Homo sapiens: one gene and its partner. The protein of the gene in region 1 purifies or fractionates together with the protein of each later gene. This does not show direct contact. Each region holds a gene or a part of one and is shown in the gene's direction. Other genes may lie near its edges.

What was found.
Region 2: the proteins of UBE2O (region 1) and BUD23 purify together in Homo sapiens (affinity purification with mass spectrometry; 7 studies listed by BioGRID and IntAct, with this or other methods). This does not show direct contact.

Annotation. Positions count from the first base shown.
Region 1 is NC_000017.11:76,388,445-76,394,485, reverse strand, and holds the end of UBE2O ((E3-independent) E2 ubiquitin-conjugating enzyme), read left to right. Parts: intron 1-2,372; coding exon 2,373-2,576; intron 2,577-2,672; coding exon 2,673-2,730; intron 2,731-2,872; coding exon 2,873-3,543; 3' UTR 3,544-5,030; downstream 5,031-6,041. UniProt on the Homo sapiens protein: E2/E3 hybrid ubiquitin-protein ligase that displays both E2 and E3 ligase activities and mediates monoubiquitination of target proteins. Negatively regulates TRAF6-mediated NF-kappa-B activation independently of its E2 activity.
Region 2 is NC_000007.14:73,693,597-73,698,712, forward strand, and holds the end of BUD23 (18S rRNA (guanine-N(7))-methyltransferase), read left to right. Parts: intron 1-27; coding exon 28-73; intron 74-395; coding exon 396-454; intron 455-3,869; coding exon of another isoform or gene 3,870-3,920; intron 3,921-4,008; coding exon 4,009-4,098; intron 4,099-4,235; coding exon 4,236-4,290; 3' UTR 4,291-4,616; downstream 4,617-5,116.

The DNA of each region.
Region 1 (6,041 bases):
CTGCAAAATAGGATGACAGCATGTGGCCACACCACATTCCATTTTCCCACTCCTCTGTTCGTGGACGGGGCCTAGTGTCTCTGAGTCATGTTTACTGAGGCAGCGCTGAGTGCATCCTTCCGGAACAGGCAAGCCCGTTTGCCTGCCACCTTGTTGACTCCGCAGTCCCTTACTGGGCCTGTGCATCGAGCCAAGCACTATGCTAGACTCTGAATCTGAGTCTGAGGCCCCAGTTCTGGCCCTGTCCTGGAAGGAAGGGAGTAAGAAAAGAAAGAGCAGGGATCCTGAGAGCAGCCAAGCGATCCTGAGAGCAGCCAAGCGGGATGCTGTTGAGATGGGCCCGGAGTAGCCACAACCCTGGAACAGGGCTAGGCAGAGTCCTAAGGCCCAGTGCTGCTTGAGATTCTTAATAACGCTTTTGGTTTTTTCTTGGGTTGTAGGAAAATTCCTTTTGAAAATTCTAGCCTGTCTCAGCTCTGCTGAGGGAAGATGGAAACAGTATTTTTTGTTTTGTTCTGTTTTCCCCACATCTCACTCAGGAGAAGAAAAGTAGTGCATTCCCTGGAGGCTCCCAGGGTGGCACCGATAAGAGCATGTGCAGAGGTTCCCTCGCCCCAGCTAGCGCTCTGCCTTCCCTGCTTCTCAGCTCATCACTGACCTCGCCCATTGCCCTGTCAGTTGAGATCCCACACACACGCGTGTGTGCACAGATGCACGCAAATAGATGCACAGATTCCAGATGTCTGTGGAGCGGTGGTCTCCCAACCTCCCCCATGGAGTTCAAACCCTCACTGTCAGCTTCTGGTTGTGAGACCATCCCCCCTTCCCCAGGCCTCACCAGCCTGGAACTGCCTTTCAGCTTGAAACTGCTTGTACTACTTGCCTTGTTGGGGATAAGGGTTGGAGCAGGTGTTTAGAGGAATTGTTTTGTTTTGTTTTTAAAAGACAGGGTTGGCCGGGCGTGGTGGCTCACGCCTGTAATCCCAGCACTTTGGGAGGCCAAGGTGGGCGGATCACAAGGTCAGGAGTTCGAGACCAGCCTGACCAACATGGTGAAACCCCGTCTCTATTAAAATACAAAAAATTAGCCGGGCGTGAGGAGACTGAAGCAGAGAATCGCTTGAACCTGGGAGGCAGAGGTTGCAGTGAGCCAAGATCACACCACTGCACTCCAGCCTGGGGACAGAGCTATACTCCATCTCAAAAAAACACATAAGCCAAAAAATAAAAGACAGGGTCTCACTCTGTCGCCCAGGCTGGAGTGCAGTGGTGTGATCATAGCTCACTGCAGCCTCAGCCTCCTGGAGTCAAGTGATCCTCCCATCTAAGCTTTTTGAGTAGCTGGGACTGTAGGTATGCACCACCATGCCCAGCTAATTTTTTATTTTTTGTAGAGATAGGGTCCCACTATGTTGCCCAGGTTGGTTTTGACCTCCTGGCCTCAAGCAGTCCTCCCACCTTGGCCTCCCAAAAGTGCTGGGATTACAGGTGTGAGCCATCACGTCTGGCTGAGGAATACAATCTTTTTTTTTTTTTGAGATAGCGTCGCACTGTCACCCAGGCTAGAGTTCAATGGCACAATCTCGGCTCACTGCAACCTCCGCCTCCGGGTTGAAGCAATTCTCCCACCTCAGCCTCCCGAGTAGCTGGGACTGCAGGCATGCATCACCACGCCTGGCTAATTTTTGTATTTTTAGTAGAGACGGGGTTTCACCACGTTGGCCAGACTGCTCTTGAACTCCTGACCTTAAGTGATCCACCCGTCTCGGCCTCCCAAAGTGCTGGGATTACAGGCACGAACCACCGCGCCCAGCTGGAATACAGTCTTAAAGTAATGATTTATGAGGAAAAACACCTGATAAGATAAAAACTCACTTCGAGTATTTCTCTTAGCCAGGGTTCAATGATTCCAGGCAAGGGCCAGGCACAGTGACGGCTCAGGGCTGTAAACCCAGCACTTTGGGAGGCCGAGGCAGGCGGATCACTTGAGCCCAGGAGTTCGAGACCAACCTAGGCAACATAGTGAAACCCTGTCTGTACACAAAATAAAAAAATCATCTGGGCACGGTGGCCCACACTGTAGTCCCGGCTACTTGGGAGGCTGCAGTGAGCCATTATTGCACTAGTGTACTCCAGCCTGGGGGACACAGCAAGACCCTGTCTCAAAAAAAAAAGATTCCAGGCTGTTCTGCAGAGAGAGATTTGTCCTTAGCTTCTCCACTGCTGGTGGCATCTGGAGTCCCAGGTGCTGCTCTTCCTGCGTGATCTGCACAGTGTCCTGGGAAAGAGCAGGTGCAGATGCAGATGCCACATGTAGGACACCCCCTTCCACCCCTGCCAACCTTGGCCTCCCTCCCTCCCTCCCTACCTAGGACCTCTTCTCAGCTCTCATCAAGGGCCCCACTCGAACCCCCTACGAGGATGGCCTCTACTTGTTTGACATCCAGCTCCCCAACATCTACCCAGCCGTGCCCCCCCACTTCTGCTACCTCTCCCAATGCAGTGGCCGCCTGAACCCCAACCTGTATGACAATGGGAAGGTGTGTGTCAGCCTCCTGGGCACCTGGATTGGAAAGGTGAGTATAGGGCCAGGCCCCCAGCCAAGAAGGAGGAAGAGCCACTGGTGGATAGGGGCCTGGGGAACAGAATTGATGGTGCCCTGTGTGTTTCAGGGGACAGAGAGGTGGACAAGCAAGTCCAGCCTTCTCCAGGTGCTCATCTCCATCCAAGGTACAGTTGGGCTGAAGCGGGGGTGCGGACAAGGGAGGGCCGGTGGAGGAAAGTGACTCTGATAGTCCCCCTGGCAGGTGGAGGGTAGGCCTGCATTGTGGGCCTCTCTCACCCACTGAGGGAAGGTGTCCCGCCCACACAGGTCTGATCCTGGTAAATGAACCATACTACAACGAAGCCGGCTTCGACAGTGACCGAGGCCTGCAGGAAGGCTATGAAAACAGTCGCTGTTACAATGAGATGGCGCTGATCCGCGTGGTGCAGTCCATGACCCAGCTGGTGCGGCGGCCCCCCGAGGTCTTTGAGCAGGAGATCAGGCAACACTTTAGCACTGGTGGCTGGCGGCTGGTGAACCGTATCGAGTCCTGGCTGGAAACCCATGCCCTGCTGGAGAAGGCCCAGGCACTGCCCAACGGGGTGCCCAAGGCCAGCAGCTCGCCAGAGCCCCCAGCTGTAGCCGAGCTGTCAGACTCCGGCCAACAAGAACCTGAGGATGGAGGGCCAGCCCCAGGAGAGGCCTCCCAGGGCTCAGACTCAGAGGGCGGTGCCCAGGGCCTGGCCTCAGCTAGCAGGGACCACACAGACCAGACTTCGGAGACCGCACCAGACGCATCGGTGCCACCCAGTGTGAAACCAAAGAAGCGGAGAAAGAGCTACCGGAGCTTCTTACCTGAGAAGAGTGGCTACCCTGACATCGGCTTCCCCCTCTTCCCACTTTCCAAGGGTTTCATCAAGAGCATCCGGGGTGTCCTGACGCAGTTCCGGGCTGCCCTGCTAGAGGCAGGCATGCCGGAGTGCACAGAGGACAAGTAGCTGCCAGGCACAGAGGAAAGAGCATCACCGTGGGAGAGGCCAGCCGCCGCCTGCTCACTCCCCCCCGGAATCACCCCTCTTCCCATGCCCCTCTGTCCCCACTGCAAACCCACTGCCCTCTTCTCCCCAAGGTGAGTTTGATGCTGAAGTGCAAGAAGTGTGTTGAGATGCTGCCGTTTCTATTTTGAAGCGAGCTTTCAACAGGCGGGTCCCCTGTGGCAAAGAAAATCGGAACCCTGTTGCCGATTTTCCATTTGTCACCCCAGCAGAATGTCCGGCACTTGCTCCCTTGCTGCCCCTTCTCAGGTCAGAGGCGGGTGTTCCAGGGCCTGCCGCGGGGCTCTCTGGGCCGGTTCCCTGCAGACCCGCAGGAGAGCACATGTGCCTTGCATGAAGTGTGGGTTGCGCCAACAATTCCCCTGGTCCCTTTCAACCTGTTTAGTTCAACTCAAGCCTCCCTGTGTCCCAGACCCTCCTGCTGCCACCACCACCCAGGTCCTCCCTAGTCCTCCAGCGTCAACACTATCCCTTGGGAGTTGTAGCTGCTGTCACTGACTCCCGGCTATACATGGCCTGTCGACCACGTTATAGCCCTCAGGCCTGTTGAACTTGCTCTCTAAGAGAGGTTGGGACCAGGCTAGGTTCCGGGTGACGCCCAGGAGAGGTGGTGGCCTTCACACATGCACATGGAGTTGAGGACCAGGGAGCTGCAGGGAAAGCAACAGCTATAGGTGCCTTGCTCTTCTGTCGGAGGCTGCTGGGGGCAAGAGCAGCTGCACAAGGCCAGGGCAAGTGCTAGGGCCCCTCCCCCATCACATGGTCACACTGGGACAGGCGTGCAGCTCACTGAACTCCAAGCGAGCCAGCCCTCTCTTGGACTAGAAGGCCTACTGTCAGCCCTTCGCTTACAAACTGCAGGCTCAATCCGAAGGGGACGGCCGGCGGGGGCTCTCCTAGTGCCCAGAGACAGGCCCAGAGGTTTACAAGTTTTCTAAGCTTTTGATAATGTGAAGCTCCAGGCCGAGAGGATGCTGTTGAGCACATTGCAGCTATGTAATTTTTGGTGTATGTATGTAATATTTAAGGTTGGAAAAAAAACTCAAAAGCAAAGATATTAACTCTTATTAGAAAAAAAGACAAAAAAAAAGCCAAAGCATGATGCGTCTTGTCAGCCTTAAGTGGGCTCCACACCTGTGCTGTGCTGTGACCGCCCAGCCAGCAGAGCTGCGGGAGGATGGAGCCGGACCACACACCGTGGCATTTGGAACCGAGTCGGTATCTTGTTTGAGAAACACCCGGAGTGACTGGTGGGGCTGTGCTTCCCAGTGCATTGTACATGTGGAGATGTGAATGCCTACTGCTTACGATATCTGTATAAAGTGCTGTGTGATTAAACTTTTTTTTACTTGCATTTTTTTTTTTTTTTTTTTTTGTGTTGGCTCATTAGCAAGACAAGGTGACACCATTAAACCTCCCTCTGCCATTCATCTGGGCTCCGTTGCCTTTGTGTCCCTCACACACACCCTTCCTGGGGAAGGAAAGACCTTGTTTGTTGCCAGGGAAGGCATGTGGCAGTGGGTCCTGGCTTTCCTGGCCAGGTGGGGGCCACTGTGAACAGCACCCCCACCCGCCCACACTGCCCTCTGCCTGCCAGACCTGCTTGCATGCCTTTTGTACTTCTTGTCCTGGAGCAGTCCTCTGGCCTCCTCCTGGCCGGTGGTGTGCCCCTCAGGAGCCAGCTTAGAGCAGCCTCCCAGCAGCTGTAGTCTCCAGAGACCTACAACTGACCAGTTCAGCTCCTTCCAGGTTCTGGGAGAGCCGACGTCATAGCACCTGGCGGTGGACAGGTGCCACAACTCCTGGACGCTAAGCCAAAATGGTTGCCCAGTTTAGACTTGGATGGATCCTTCCCTGCCACATTCTTTCCACTCCTGCCTGGCACTCCTCCACAGGGACAGGTAGGGAAAGGAGACAGCTGAGGGAGGCTGGGAGAACCCTAGAACCCTAGACCATTGTGGTGGATGACAGACTCCTTTTAAAAAGGTAAGATACCAGGTGTGGTGGCTCATGACTGTAATCCCAGCACTTTGGGAGGCAGAGGCGGGCAGATGACTTGAGGTCAGGGGTTTGGGATCAGCCTGGCCAACATGGTGAAACCCCATCTCTACTAAAACTACAAAAATTAGCTGGGCATGGTGGCATGCACCTGTAATCCCAGCTACTCAGGAGGCTGAGCACAAGAATCACTTGAACCCGGGAGGTAGAGGTTGCAGTGAGCCAAAAAAAAAAAAAAAAAAAAAAAGCAAGATATTGCCATTTTTTACTTCTGAGGTCTCCTGCTCCTTGCCAATTTTTTTGGGGGGGGGCGGGGGCGGTGGCCAGTGGTTTTATTGTTTTTGTTTTTGAGACATTCTCACTCTGTCTCACCCAGCCAGGCTGGGGTGCAATGGCGCGATCTCGGCTCACTGCAGCCTCAACCTCCCGGGCTCAAGCGATTC
Region 2 (5,116 bases), on another chromosome or scaffold:
CCCTCACTTTGCACTTTCTCCTTTCAGATTCTACCTCTGCTTGTTTTCTGGGCCTTCGACCTTTATACCAGAGGTGAGGGACACTGGGTTTGCAGGCAGGCCTGTGTCTTTTGACTTCCAGGCAGTGGGGCTCAGCCTGCAGAGCCTGCTGGGAGAACACTGGTGGGGAAGCAGGGCCCAGCCCCAGAGTGCAGACCCTGGAGTGCTCACATCCTCTGGAATCTGGAGGCAGAGACCTCTGCTCTGCAGGTCCCAGAAAGGCGTGTCAGTTCCTTCTCGTGGGACTGGACCTCGTCCCTGTCGGAAGGGTCAGGCCTGGGTGCCTGGGCTTCTGGAGTGGGGCAGATGGTTTGAGAACTCTCCAGGGTGACCTGAGTGCACTTTGGTTCCTGCAGGGGCTGAGTGAAAATCAGGATGAAGTTGAACCCAGGGAGTCTGTGTTCACCAATGAGAGGTAAAGCAACTGCTGAAGCCTGCCCCGGCTGCAGCGGGGGCTGCCACATTTGTTAGACATGGACTTTCTCTCTGCCCTCACCCAAGCCTCTCAGGTCACATGCAGCAGGGACACCAAGGTGACGGTAGAAACATCAGGTCCCATTTGGACTGTGCCTGTTTGGGGCTAGGGGTTTGGGGTCCTGGATGTCTGGGTGCAGCCATGCAGCCTGGACTCCCTTTGTGAGCCCACACATGCCCCTTCCCCTTGCCACGCCTGGCAGGCTGTCTCCTTCTTTTCTGATGCTGCCCTCCACCTGCATCTGGGACCCTCTCCCTTGGGTGCTGTGGCTCTCCCTTCCTTCCTGCATCCTCATCTTGACTCTCCTGGGTCACTGCTGTCGGCACACAGACATGCTGCACAATTTCTCCTTTTCTAGAAAAGTTCCTTCCTTAACCCCATAACAACAACTAACCACCCCGTTGTTGCTTCCCTTCATAGCAGAACTCAGACCTGCCTCTTCTTCCCCTCCCACCATTCTCTCAATCCACTTCTCAGGCTGACAATTCTGTCTCATCACAAATTGTTCTTGTCAACTCCACCACCAATTTCCATCAAGCCACATCTGGTCACTTGTGACTTTTTTTCATGTCCTTAATGTGCCTGCTCGGTAGGGTCAAAGACAGCAGTGCGCTCCCTCCTTGACGCTTCCTTCACTTGGCCTTCCACCCACCATCGTGGTTTCCTCAGCCTTCCTGGCTGCTCCTCACTCCACTGCTGCTTCCTCTTCGAGTGCTGGGCCCAGCCTGGATTGGATCCCTTCTCTACCTGTGGTGCTGTAAATGCCAGCCGGAAGGTCCTAATTCCCAAATGTGTATCTTCAGTCTCTTGCCACCTGGGGTTTCCCAATGCCCCCTCAGTGTCTATACCTGGAGTTTCCATGGGTAGTCTCTCTCTGTTACCCAGGCTAGAGTGCAGTGGTGGAATCTTAGCTCACTGCAGCCTCGAACTCCTGGGCTCAAATGATCCTCCTGCCTCAGCCTCCCAAGTAGCTGAGACTACAGGTGCATGCCACCATGCCTGGTTAATTTTTAAAGTTTTTGGTAGAGATGAGGTCTTGCCATGTTGTTCAGGCTGATCTTGAACTCCTGGCCTCAAGCAATCCCCCTGTCTCGGCCTCCCAAAGTTCTGGGATGACTGATGTGAGCCACCATGCCTGGCCATCCTCCATTCTTTTTTTTTTTTGAGATGGAGTCTCACTCTTTCCCCCCAGGCTGGAGTGCGGTGGCTTGATCTCGGCTCACTGCAACCTCTGCCTCCCAGGTTCCAGCGATTCTCTTGCGTCAGCCTCCCGAGTAGCTGGGATTGCAGGCGCCCGCCCAACTAATTTTTTGTGTTTTTAGTAGAGACAGGGTTTCACCATGTTGGCCAGGCTGTTCTCAAACTCCTGACCTCGTGATTCGCCCGCCTCGGCCTCCCAAAGTGCTGGGATTACAGGTGTGAGCCACTGCGCCTGGCCTCATCCTCCATTCTTTACCATTCTTGATCATTCCTGTCTTTCCCTACATTTCACATCTTGTCAGCCTGTCATTGAGCCCTGCTGTCCGTCCCTCAGTGTGTATCCCCGTGCTGACCCTCCCTGCTTCCAACGAGCCTAATCCAGCACTGCCCCTAGCCTGGATTGCTGAACAGCTGCCTGTGTTGTCTCCTTGCCTTTGCAGTCTTTGCCTCTTTCAGATTATTTTCTGCATAGCAGCAAGACTGGTCTTTTTCTTTTTTTCTAAAATGTAAGTTGTATCTTGTCATTGCTCTTTTAGTGCCTTCATTGCAGTTGTGCTCCCCGCTCATGTTGATTTTCCTTAACACCCTTCACTGCTCTAAGTCATACACATACCAGTTGACTTGGTTATTATTTGTATCTCCAGCTAGAGTGAAAACTTGGTGAGGACTGGTATTATATCCCTGACATTAAAAATAGTGTCTTGTTAGTAAAAAGTGCTCAGTATTTTTCTGAATGAATAATTGATTATAAGGTAGTGAAGAGGGAGGTTATATCTGAGGTCCAGTTGACATGAGGGAAAGGTCTTAAGACCTTTAAGACATTTAAGAGGAAAAATGAGCCCAAAATGCATGTGTTTGGAAGGCCCACAGCTGGGCACAGCCATGCATGTTCCTCACGTCCACCATAGGTTTATGCTGCCTGACCCCTTGGGTCTTTGCTCATTTCCCTTAGTTTCCCTAGTCCATTCCCCATGGGGAGCTGGGACCCTTCTGGATGACCTCTTCTCTGAGGCGCCCATCTCGTGCTCCCAGGGAGCACTCCCATCTCCTCCCTCCCAGGGGAAGTACACATTGCCTTATCTCCATGTGTCTTAGGATCCTTCTTGTCCTTACACTGGTGTCTTCAAACGACATGTCCTAAAAGTAAATGTGGGTAAGTTGAATGACCTGAGCATCCATTCCTCAGCTATTCAAAAAGTAGGGGTAGTGCCACCTATCTTGGCAGTGTGTTGAGGGTGCCCAGCACGTACCTTGCCATCCCTCGTTCTGTAGGCTCTCACTTCCAGTTCCTCAGATGAGGTACAGGGCAGGGAGGAGCTTCTCCCGTTACTGTCATCTCAGTCTAACCACATTCAGGACACTTGTTTATTTTAAATAAACAGGTGAATTAAGAAAAAGTTTTTTAAGTCTTTACCTAATCAGTCTCCAGGCTCTCTTTTTGGCCTGTTCCTCCCTTCCTCCTGGCCGCCTCCCTCCCATGCCTCTCATGTGCCTCCTGCAGGGCTGGGCCCCCACTTCTCTTGGGACCTGTGCTTTGGGGCACTCCCCGTCTTCACCTCCTTCCTTTAGCTCCATTGATGACTTTCCCCCTTGCTGCTTCTCCCATGGCTCACCTCTTGCCCCCTGGTTCGCCACTCTGCCCTCACTTTGTACTCTTTGTAGAATCTTGAGATGACTCCTCCTGTGTCCCCAGCCCTGCTCTGCAGCTGCTCCTGCTTTGTGCTGGCTCATCAGGCTCAGGCATCCGAATGGCAGCTCCTTGGCTTGCCCTGTCTCTGGTTTCTACGGATGGTCACAGGGGTCTTCGGGGTTACCCCGCCCTCTTTCCTTCTTCCCTCATACCCCTCAGTCCTTCCTTTTCAGACCCTCCTTTCCATCCCTGTCTTCCTGCCCCCAAGCTGTGGGACCCTAAGCTCCTGCTGTGAACTGTCGACTGTGCTCTTGAAGTCTAGGTGATGATGTGTCATTGCATTGGTAGAAAGCGGCCTGCTTACTGCTGCTTAGCTGCTTCCCGAAGAGGGAACAGACTGCTCGCTGGTGTTTAGGTCTCCATGCCCGGCCCAGCTCTCTCCTCCTCTGCCCACCCAACAACCTCTGTGGCCCGGATGGATGTTATCAGGAAGGAGGGTGTCCAGAGCGGGGAATTGTGTTATAGGGAAGGTGGAGCATTTGAGAGAAGGGGCATCCGAGGCCACCAGACTCGGAGGTAAGCTTGCCATGGATTCACATGGGGGCCAGTCGGGCAGCCCCATCCATCAGCTGTCCATCAGCTCATAGCTGTGTCTCCGCCACAGGTTCCCATTAAGGATGTCGAGGCGGGGAATGGTGAGGAAGAGTCGGGCATGGGTGCTGGAGAAGAAGGAGCGGCACAGGCGCCAGGGCAGGTGAGTGCCAGCCTGGGAGCTGGCAGGGTGGGTGGGGGGTGGATGACTATTGCCATGAAGAGCTTCCCTTTATTTGAAGGGTCCAGGGCTGCTTTGATCTTTTTTTTCTGAGACTGTCCTATTCCTTTTCTGCACAGGGAAGTCAGACCTGACACCCAGTACACCGGCCGCAAGCGCAAGCCCCGCTTCTAAGTCACCACGCGGTTCTGGAAAGGCACTTGCCTCTGCACTTTTCTATATTGTTCAGCTGACAAAGTAGTATTTTAGAAAAGTTCTAAAGTTATAAAAATGTTTTCTGCAGTAAAAAAAAAGTTCTCTGGGCCGGGCGTGGTGGCTCACACCTGTAATCCCAGCACCTTGGGAGGCTGAGGTGGGAGGATCATTTGAGGCCAGGAGTTTGAGACCTGCCTGGGCAACATAATGAAACTTCCTTTCCAGGGAGGAAAAAAAAAAAAAAAAAAAGCTCTGAGAGCATCTTATTTTGTTTAAAGGCAAGAAATAAAATTTCCTTTTGTGGAGCTCTGGCATCTCCCAGCTCTGTGATTCTCACCAAACTCCAGTTCCTCCTGGTGGGCTACTGCTCGACTCCCCAGGCAGGAATCAGATTTAAAACACTTAGATGAAAGCATTCTTTCCATTTGCAAGGAACACAGAGTCCTTTAATTTAGGGCTTATATATAACTGTATCATAATCACACCAAGCAAAGTTGGGAAGAGGGCCCACATGAAATGTGTTCGTGGTGCCTGCTGGCCAGTCCGTTTTCCCTTCCTGTGAAGGCCTTGCCAGTCCAGCGGCCCCAGCTTGAACTGTGGCACTGAGCTGCACGGTCAGCTGCCTACCAGCCCAGTGCTTGGATGTCTTGGGCTGATCTCTTGTCCCGTCACTAGTGGTTGGAAAGGGAAGGTCCTGCTCTGGGGTAGTGTGGGACTGTCCAGCTGGCTGTGATAGGAGAGGAGGTGTAATGGTTGCTTGAGCCTTTTGGTCCATGTGGGAAGAGGGGCAAGATCCTGGGCATTG